Linked DNA regions of Homo sapiens. The protein of the gene in region 3 purifies or fractionates together with the protein of the main gene of each other region. This does not show direct contact. Each region holds a gene or a part of one and is shown on either strand. Other genes may lie near its edges.

The links.
Region 1: the proteins of EGFL6 (region 3) and LRP1B purify together in Homo sapiens (affinity purification with mass spectrometry; 2 studies listed by BioGRID and IntAct, with this or other methods). This does not show direct contact.
Region 2: the proteins of EGFL6 (region 3) and ALG13 purify together in Homo sapiens (affinity purification with mass spectrometry; 2 studies listed by BioGRID and IntAct, with this or other methods). This does not show direct contact.

The regions. Positions count from the first base shown.
Region 1 is NC_000002.12:140,234,514-140,238,173, forward strand, and holds part of LRP1B (low-density lipoprotein receptor-related protein 1B precursor), read right to left. Parts: coding exon 3,639-3,660; intron 372-3,638; coding exon 273-371; intron 1-272. UniProt on the Homo sapiens protein: Potential cell surface proteins that bind and internalize ligands in the process of receptor-mediated endocytosis.
Region 2 is NC_000023.11:111,687,563-111,691,222, reverse strand, and holds part of ALG13 (UDP-N-acetylglucosamine transferase subunit ALG13), read right to left. Parts: intron 3,337-3,660; coding exon of another isoform or gene 3,222-3,336; exon of another isoform or gene 1,051-3,221; intron 1-1,050. UniProt on the Homo sapiens protein: Catalytic subunit of the UDP-N-acetylglucosamine transferase complex that operates in the biosynthetic pathway of dolichol-linked oligosaccharides, the glycan precursors employed in protein asparagine (N)-glycosylation.
Region 3 is NC_000023.11:13,621,592-13,625,251, reverse strand, and holds part of EGFL6 (epidermal growth factor-like protein 6 isoform 1 precursor), read right to left. Parts: intron 1,432-3,660; coding exon of another isoform or gene 1,429-1,431; coding exon 1,327-1,428; intron 1-1,326.

The DNA.
Region 1 (3,660 bases), on a different chromosome or scaffold from region 3:
ACAAATACTCATGTTCACTGTAAAGGGACAATAACATTTCCAAATCCAGTAGAAGAGATATTTCTACTTAATGGCTTGCCTAAAATAATGTTTTAGATGTAATCTTGCATAGACAGGACACATAACATAAGCCCCCAATTTAAATGCTATTTTGAAATCTCTTGTTAATTAAAAACTTAATTAAAAACAAGCCTCTAAGTCTAGTAATTAGTCTTTGATTGTGAGGGTTCTGTGATGAAACGGACATGAAATAACGAATATTCTTCTCTCACCCCAGCAGTTAGTGGTCCTTTCAAATCAGAGTTTAGGTAGATGGGCGGCGCTGTGTGTGGAAGCTTGAAAGCACTGGGTCCTCCCCCTATGTACCTGGCCTGTATATAAACAGAAAATTTTAGTTTCTGATCTAATATTATAGAATCACTTTTCATCGATACATATCATGTTAATTCATAAAAATAACATAAAAATACCCTTTAGCCTTACACCATTTACAGTGTGTTCATGTTAGCTTTAACAACTTAAAACAACTTAAAATATCCAATATTAATATTATTAAAGATCCAATATTAATATTGGATCTTTGCTTCATAGGTAGACATTTCTCTCACAAAAGTCTTATTCAGAAAATATAAAGAATAGTCCAAGTAAGAATTGGCATGAATTTGAAGATAAAACTAGTACATATTTATCTCTTTTAAACTCTTCAAACTGTTCTGTGGTTACCCCCATAGTCAAATCAATTTTATTAACTGCATTAAGTACTTTCAATCCTTTTGATTATAAGATACCATTGAACTAGAAATTTTACCCTCTTTGAGAATAACAGAAATGAGTGTTCTACAAAATTTTTCTTCACATGTAATGTAATTTATACTGATTGCACCATGCATATATCAAACGCTTGTAACAAAGTGAATGCTCTATAAAATTCATATGATTATTAAGGTTGCTTCAATATGGCCCTTTGTTTCTCACTACTGTCTAAACCTATTAGAACTAGCTGTTTTTTTCTGTAGTTACTCATTTGACAACAATTCACATTTATATTCAAATATCAGGATCCAGATAGAATCAGTCATCTAAGTCATATTTGATGCAATTTTGGTTATTCAGTCATCCAATTGGTAAATATTTGAGTATTATGTTCTAAGTACATTAAAATATATTTGGGGGCACTGAAACATAGTTTTATCTTCCTAGAGTAAATGTGAAAATTTTTGAATGTGTAAAAAGCTATTCTCTTTAAGTGTACAAAATTGGATTAATTCTATCACTAGAAATAAAAATGATGAGGAAAAAATAACCCTCCTTCATATGAAAAATGTGTAAAGTATATCGTCATTAGTCTGTTATATGTATGAATACTATATTTTTATTCCTAAGAAAAATGCAAAGAATTTCAGAACTCTATTATTTGTCTTTCTCCTTCATAGATATAATAGATTATCAATAGCAATGTGTAAAATATGTATCATGTCTCCACTTCTGTGATATTTTAAAGCAGAAAATATCAAATGTAAGGTTACCAAGACTTTTTCCTTGAAAAATTTCAGATGTAGGAGTGAATTTTAATAACTATAAAATTATGTCTAATTAGAAAAATATAATATTCTCTGATAGTACACAATGTATCCATGTGAAAAGATTGATTTTCATAGAAGTGAATAGTTGAGCATCAATTTTAGGCTTAGAAAGCCTAATCATGGGTTCAGAACTAGACTGAATATGTGGGATCCTATTCAGATTCTTCAGGAACACCAATGACTGTGATTGCAAAATAATTTGAATGTAGATTGGCCACATTGGATATTTACAATGTAAAAGTGCATTTTGATGAAGTAACTTTTGTAAGTCAGAAAAATAAATAACTATTCAATAAATAAGTGAATAAACCAAGAAAAATTGTTTCATAATACTAAATTGATACTCTTAATTTAGAGAAAAAATATTCTAAAATTATCAGAAAGAATATTCAGATAATTCACTGAAGTAAATCTTCACAACTTTAACTGGATAATTGTATCATTTAGCTATTTCCCTTAAAAGTTGCCAACCTCAGCTTATAGTAATAAAAACTAACAAATATTTTTAAATTTAAAAGGCTGTGGATTGTCAGGCTATATGTATCAATGAAATGTTTTAAACTAGTAAGGATATTATGACAGATAGAAAAATATTTCTCAAAAGTGATTTAATTACAAAGAAGTCCAAGGACACAGCTTATCTGGCTCATCATTTAAACATTATTGGAAACAACATACTTATTTTGATAATAAAGTACTGTACTCTTTTATATTTAAAAAATACACTGACCAAGATTTTTACACTAAGCTGTGTATCTAGATTTGCTAATACCTCAACACATTTGATTAGAGCATTATTTTACATGAATTATACATATTTATGAGATACTGTGTTTTGTTATGTTTTTATACATGTATACATTGCAGAAAAAATCAAAGTATTTAGCATATCTATCACCTCATACATAGTTATTTTTTTGTGGCGAGAACATTAAAAATCCTTTTCTAGCTATTTTTAAATATACAATACAATATTGTTAACCACCATCACCTAACTGTGCAACAGAACACCAAAACCCATTCCTCTTATCTGACTGTGACTTTGTACCCATTGAACAACACCTATTTTCCTTCCTCCTCCCCTCTCCACCCTCTAGTAACCACTATTCTACTCTCTACTTCAATATTAACTTCTATAGATTCACATGTGAGTGAGATCATGTGGTATTTGTCATTCTGTGCCTGGATTATTTCATATATGACAATATCATCCAGCTTTATCCATGTTGCCTCAAATGACAGGATTTCCTTCTTTTTTATGGCTGAATAGCATTTTCTTTATTCATTGTTGATGCACACTTAGGTTGATTCTATATCTTGGCTATTGTGAATAATGCTGTAAAAATCATGGAAGTACAGATATCTCTTCAATGTACTGATTTCCTACTTATTATGTATCAATTAAAACAAAAAACATTAAAAGAAGGATTCCATGTCTGAAGTGATGAAAACAAAACTATCTTGTAAGTATCCAGTTCCTACCAAACCAAAACCCCATAGAACCACACTGTAAGGAATACTGGGAGGAAGTGGGTAGAAAAGAAAATGTCTCACCAAACTACTTTTCAGCCATATTTCTAGAAGCTGTGCATGTATTGGTCTTCTCCTTGCATATATTTCAACATTGAAAGTCAGTAGCTTTACTTTATAATAGACCTTTATCTATCTATATATCTATCTATCCCCTGAAGAAGACCTAAACAATTTGCTGTGTGATATCAATACTAAAACAATTTTTAAATGAGTTTTTCGTTTGCTTTATGTAAACAAAATTAGATAATGAATCATTTTTCAATAAAAAACATATAAAAACATGTTTATAAAAGAACTGAGCAAATAAATATGTGTTTTCTAAGATGTGTTACACTCAGCTTCAGGTGAATGCAGTCCATAATTGTACTTTCTCTTTAGAAGAGGCTATATCATTCAATACATCCTAAAGTCCCTTATTCTAACTTCAGATAACAGAAAAACTTGGTGAAATTCAGAACCATAAAACAGAGATGCGACTCAAGAATGTTAGTGCTCACTGCCCATTATCTTAAGACATACTACCTTTGTTGGGTCTATCATAAAG
Region 2 (3,660 bases), about 98 Mb from region 3:
AGGCAGAGACAGGAGAATCACTTGAAACTGGGAGGTGGAGGTTGCACTGAGCCGAGATCACGCCATTGCACTCCAGTCTGGGTGACAGAGCGAGACTTGGTCTCAAAATAAATAAATAAATAAATAAATAAATGGTATTACATGTACAGCAGAAAATTGATCACCACATGGCTATCATGATGACCCTTTCCAAATGTTTCCCCAAAATTAATTTCAAATGATCTGTCCATGTGTCATTTCTCAGACTATATGAAGTGTTTTGGTCATCTCCACAAATTTTACATTTATGAACAAATCAGAGGAATTACGTGCTTATACCACAATAAAGGGCCAGGAAGAATATTTATATTACTGCTAGTCATTACTTAGTCTTGAAAAACTTCCTCAAACTAAATATTAAAGTGGCAAACAACCTTTTTGTACTCTTTTGTGCCTATATATGACTTGCCTTTAAAAGAATACAAAGTAGAGCCGGGTGCAGTGGCTCACGCCTGTAAAACCAGCACTTTGGGAGGCCGAGGCGGGCGGATTGCCTGAGCTCAGGAGTTCACGACCAGCCTGGGCAACACGGTGAAACCCCGTCCCTACTAAAATACAAAAAAAAAAAAATTAAAATTAAAAAGTAGAGGTCTAAGGTGTCCAAAATCAGATACTTGATGGTACTTGCAGATAATGACTACTTTTAAATGTTCCAGAACCCTATGTCAAATTCATTGGTTATACTATCTTACCAACAAATCCTTTGAGCTTTCTTTCCTCCCAAATTATAAGTATCTAAAATCCTTAATTCCCAAGGTCATCCCAAAACATCACATCTCTTTTCATCTACTCCAACCCGTAAATGTTCTATTAACTGTCTACCTCTTAATCTATCCATGGTGCAAATTTCCCAATGCTAAACTCTCTTTCATTTCCTTATCCCTGAAAATTTCAGTACCTCTAATAGAACACTGCTAAATAAACTGCATTCCACTTACTCATTAATATCAAGAACCTGCAGCTCTGTCATGTAATGAAACCAAACAAATAGAGCAAACATTTCAAACAGACTTTTGGTTACCATTCTTTAATAAGGACTAATAAGATGTAAATGTGGTGATTAATTTAGCATGTTTCCTCATCTGTAAAACTGGTGGTTTAAAATATTCTTTAAATTATCTCCCAACTCCAAAAGTCTACAATTCTGTCTTAAAGTCTTAATTTATTCAATCTACTATCAATCCTACCCAGAGCATTTTCCTAAATTCCAAAAACTCAGAAATCACAGATTTCTAAGTCCTAGGTAAGGTTGTCATACGCCAAAGGAAAACCCAGTTAAGTGTGAAATTCCTACTAAATAACTTCCATAAATAAACAAACAAAACCTACCTTGCAAGGAATTCGAGTAACTAAAATGAACACTAGGCAAACAACTATAAAGAAACAAAAAGCTTACAACATATATTATGCAGGGTAGAAAGAGCAGGGGACTGGGAATCAAGGAGCTGCTCCTAGGGGCAGTTCTGCCAAAAGCTATACTTTAAGCAAATGGTAAAATCTGAATATGATGGAATTGGACTAGATAATCTCAAGAATCCGTGCCAAATCAAAATGATTTTAAAGTCTCCTTTGACTTAAAAATCCAAAATCGATACAAAATTCCACAAAAGGGAAGTCAGAGGCGTTACTGCACACAATTGACAACAACGGCTTAAACCTCTGCTAAATGAAATAATGGAATTTAGGTTATGCATTATTCTGGGGAAGTAGATAGCAAAGGATTTAGGGGCTGTATAGCCTTTTAGTTGTCTGATATTTGAGTAGACCTTGCCTTTCATTTGTTTCTCTTTAATTCTTCATCATAAACTATAAAAACTAAGTGACCAACATAAAGTCACAATTTTCTCAAATGAGAAAAACGTATTTATGAGGGCCCAGAAAACACTAAAGATTCTCTCCCTGGATTTGAATAGGACCTTTCCTAAAACATAACATTGATATACAATTATGATTATGGTGCTGTGAATTCTCAACCAGATTACTCACTTTTTAGATTATTCTCAGCAAAATTTTAATCCAAGTTGGCTTCCTCCTGCTACCCAGAGTATTTCTTTGTCACCACCTTCTACCACTAGTAAGCATTTTTTTAATATTAGCCTAAATAAAACACAATCAGAAAAATAAACCTATAAAAACATGATAAAATGCATTCCAAATAAAATGTTTGGAACATTTAGCATGTTGGGATAATATGATTGGAATGGAAGAGAGGTCTTTATAGTGAATGTTCTATTTTGATAGATAAACTATATCTAAACATTGTACCAGAGAGCTATGGACACTTAAGGATAATCTACTGTAAAGGTCTTGAGACCACACACTCTAATCAGAAAGAACTTCATAATGTATCTTGCTCAAGTTAAGTCAATTTTAAAACCATATATTTAAGCCATTATATGCATCAGTTTATTGTTCATTCATAAAACTAATTTTATAAGCACATAAATTGTAAATTTCTGTTACAGTTAATGTTTCATTACCACTGTGAGAGGAGATCCTTAAAAAACAATAGTAAGTCCTATTGGTATAAGTCCTTTTTGATTATTCTTCTCAAACCAGTAAAGTTTTGACATTAGGCACGATTATTTTATCACTTTGTATGTTTTAGAAAAAAAAAGTGAATATATCCACTCCACTCTGTTCTTTAGGAAAAAAGTAGCTTTTCCAAGTACAAGAGATCAACTAACTTGATCATCTTTTTTAGGCAATGATTGAACTTTTCATTTCACAGAGCATAATCCATCATTTTTTAAATTTGGTTCCTTAGATTATAAAGCTAAAGATGCTAACTCTTATGTAAAATTTTTTTACATAAAAGTTGTTACTGTTTCATTTTTTTATTCTAAGGAGTATCAAACTAACTACATTTATAATCTTTGTGAAAGTTTTCAAATCTCATTCATTTTTATGATTCCAATTCCACTTGAGATTCTAGGAGAAAACCTGTGAATGCTCACTACATACTGAAGATTAGAAAAAAATCTAGTAATTTCACTAAACTGCAATTAGGATTTGGACCCAATGCAAATGTGCACAACATAAAATTTCCTATACATTCTATAGATGTAGGAAGTTTATTAATTATATTATTTTGTAAATATATATTATGTATTTAATTTGATTTAATCACATTACATAGGTTGAATTTGGGGGTTGCTTTTAAAGTGTTGAGAGTTTAGTGTTTATTTTTGTAATCCAACAACTTTATCCAAAAATGCAGAAAATTTTTCTGGCTGGCCAGGAGGATAACATTTCAGTGTTGATAAGTCCATTGACTGTAACAGCCCAGGAAGCGTGCTAAAACAAAAGAAGAAAAATATTAGGTAACATGGGAGAAAATTCCATACTTCATCTGCTGCCCACTGATGACTGAATCTAACTTCCAAGAATATAGTGGTACTTCTAAAAACTGCACATGTGAATTTTTATATATTTTAATAAGTATACATACTAGGATTATTAAAGCAATACAAAGAGTACTATAAAATGTCAATATAAATTCAGCAGATACCTTATCTCCTATGTCAACTGATATATTTCAGAAATGATATTTCATGAAAAATGTCTTCACATGGCTTTGTAATACTTCTCAGGACTGGGCATATTTAAACTGAAGCACAA
Region 3 (3,660 bases):
ACCTAGAAATCCAATGGAGGTGCAGGAGGAGCAGGGGTATGATTTGAATGATGCAGAAGCTGAGAACCCTGGGGTTATTTGTGAATTGAGTGTTTGTAAATAGGGAACTTCCCTTGGACAGAAGACTCAACTTAAGACTTAACATAACCTTATATCAGCTGTGGAGGTCCTGGAATAACCTATGGGCTCCCAATATGATATAGCTCTGGTAGACATAAATTTAGAGATGCCATTATGGAAGAAAAGAGAAACTCAGGTTAGTTATCAACAAGATAGCTTTTCCAATGATATGATGTTTTCAGCCTGGTTAAATTTGCCCTTTGCTTACACTGAATCTTTAGTAAAAGTCCCATTCACACAACTGCTGTGTGAGATGTAACCCCTCTCCCCTAACCCCAAGTTCAAAAAGGAATTCTTGTTAGGGGATATCTAGGTTTTCTGATTGCATGTGAGGGCATGAAAGGAAAGATGTTGGAGAGGAATTGGTCTAGAGGAAGGATCTAAAAGAAAGATCTTTTAACTGAGGGCTGAGCCTATACATCCCCAAAGAAATAATTTGATTGATAAGTAACTGGAGTCCCTGAAGGTGTAACAGTTGACTTTAATTATATAGTCAGTCTTCAGGAGACAGAGATTCAATTTGTGCTCTAAATGGGATCTGCAAGACAAACACTAAGGGGATAGTTAGGGTCCGTCAATAGTGTTTAAGTAGGCAATGGGAAGGGTGGGAAATCCGCAGCTCACAGATAAGATTGAGAAAAATTCAAGGACAGGTGGCTCGAAAGAAATCCTCAAGCAACAAACAGAAGGGAAAGCTCAGTTCAGGAGTTCAGGTCATTGACTTGATGTTCATTATGGTTTTCATGCTTTGAGGGGCCACTCTACTAAAACACCAGGTTTAGGTGGAGGTTATATTTCCTTTCAAGATTTATTTCCCCCATGAAAACAAAACAAAAAACAAAAACTACAAGATGCCATGGCTGGTAAACTGGGAAGAAGAAACCATTTCTTTCTACCTTTTCCCTAACTCTCCCAAACTTTATACAAATCTCAACATCTCTCCCTCAGCAGCAGGAGAGTGAATATGGAAGAGGTTTTCTCCCATATCCTTTGTGGTGGCAGGTGTGTGGGAGAGGGATTAAGTAGGAGAATATATGCTGGACCAAGTTAGTCATCTATCAAGGGAGAGCTCAGAAGGTCTAAAAGTTTCCAAAAATGACAAACAACCCTGCTCTGATGAGTAATGGGAATAACAACCCATCACTCATGGAGGGCTTTCTATCCCTTCACCATATTGCAGAACATGAAACTGTCAAATATAAATACCATTATCTCGATCAGCAGGATTCCAGTCAAAATCATCTTCTCTATCCTGTTTCCAGTCACAGATCCCATGATTGAAGCTGCAGTCAACCGAGATATTTAAATCTGCTAAAAAGAAAGAACATATTTCATAACCCCTAAAAGCATTAGGAAGGTGTCTAACATTTGGGGCTTTGGAAGGCAATACCTTGTTTTCAGTCGCACAGAGTACAGATCATGACATACCCTGTTTTGAGTTATGTCTGTGAAGCCATTCTGAACAAATTCAGTTGTGATCTTAAAAAAACAAAAAGCTTTGGGAGGCTGAGGTAGGCAGATCACGAGGTCAGGAGTTCAAGACCAGCCTGGCCAACATGGTGAAACTCCGTCTCTACTAAAAATACAAAAATTAGCTGGGCATGGTGGCAGACACCTGTAATCCCAGCTACTCGGGAGGCTGAGGCAGGAGAATCACCCAGGAGGTGGAGGTTGCAGTGAGCCAAGATCACATCATTGCACTCCAGCCTGGGTGACAGGGTGAGACTCTGTCTCAAAAAAAAAAAAAAAAAAAACCCAAAATAAAACAAAAACCCTTTTTTAAAAAAAAAAAAAATTAGTAATGGGCGAGAACCCCATGCACAAAGAGAAACAGAATATAAGCAATTGTTTATCGAATTCAGGCCAGAAAATAAAATATCTCCTACCCAAATAAACCAGTGAAGACCTTGCCGGAACTTTCTACTTTCTTTTTCTTTTTTTTTGAGACAGGTTCTTGCTCTGTCACTCAGGCTGGAGTGTAGTGGCACAAACACAGCTCACTACAGCCTCTACCTCCTAGGCTCAAGTGATCCTCCCACTTCAGCTTCCCGAGTAGCTGGGACTATGGACACATGCTACCATGCCAGCTAATTTTTAAATTTTTTTTTTGTACAGATGGGGGTCTCATTGTGTTGCCCAGGCTGGTCTTGAACTCCTGGGCTCAAACGATCCACCTGCCTTGGCCTCCCAAAATGCTGGTATTCCAGGTGTGAGCCACCGTGCCTGGCCTCTAAACTGTTAATGACTGCCTTGTTTAGATGTGTCAGAGAAATATAAGAGTTCATTCAGCTAGTTTTAAGTTTTGAACCAGTGCCTGTGGTTACTTTTATGTAGATCCTGGCCCACTGTCTGTTTTATAAAGTTTTATTGAAACACACTATGCCCATTCATTCACATAACATCAATGACTGCATCTGAGCTACAATGACGGAGTTGAATAGTTGTGAAAGTAGTTTATGGCCTACAAAGCTTAAAATATGTACTATCTAGCCCTTTATAGAAAAAAGTTGGCTGACCTCTGATGTAGATAAATACCACTGGGAAAGGGCGGGGGTGAAGAATGAGATATTTTTTATTTATAACTAAGGCTAGCCTCTGGCTCTGATTTTGGGGCTTTATATGTTTTAATGCTGGGGAAGAAAGGAATGGTAAGGAAAGGGAATAGGGTAAAAAGAAACACAGCAGCAGCTGATTCTTGACTCATTTTGATTTGCCAAATATTTTATATCATTTGATTAGGTTGTTTAAAAAAACGTCTAGCATCAGACTCATTTTCAGGAAACTAAAACTAAGGCTCAAGTTCTGCTGACACTGAATGCTGGAGTTGGACCTGAATCCCAAATCAGACTGCAATCCAGGACCTTCCATCTTGCACATATCCTAAGTGAGCACATACGGTCCCTTTCCTCACTTTCCTTTCTTCTTAACTCCCTATTTTTTCTCTGTGCAGCAAATATATTTTCTTTCTAGTCCCAGTTTTAAAAGTAAAAGATGCCAGGTAATACTGGCTTCCAGTCTTCAGTATTCTTCAATGAGTGCTAATACTAGTTAGATAGTTGATGTTATTATCCCACAAATAGTGGAATATCAGCTTTTCAGTTGGTTTACAATTGTGGTGGAATGTTTCTCCCAAACTCTTCCCCTTCCTCCACATGGGGAAAGCGAGTGTGTAAATTGGGATGATGGAATAGTATATAGCAAACTATTCCATACAGAGATAAAACTCAAGGCTTTGGTCTCACAGGCACATTCTTTCATTTGTATAGCACTTCATGGTTTGGAAAGTGCTTTCACATATATTCTCTGGTTTAATCCACACCTGCCTTGAAGCAGATGCTCTTGGTGCCACACAAATATCTGTCAGTACTTATATTCTCTTGCAGGCATTTGGCTTTCTACTGGAAACACTCACAGCTCTCTGTGTGAGGGTGTTCTCTGGCTGGAGCATTCTTGGCCCAACCAGGTGAGCTAGAATGCTGGGAAGTTATTTTCCCAGGGACAGCCCTCAACCAGTGATGGACAGGAGTTGTTGGATAGATA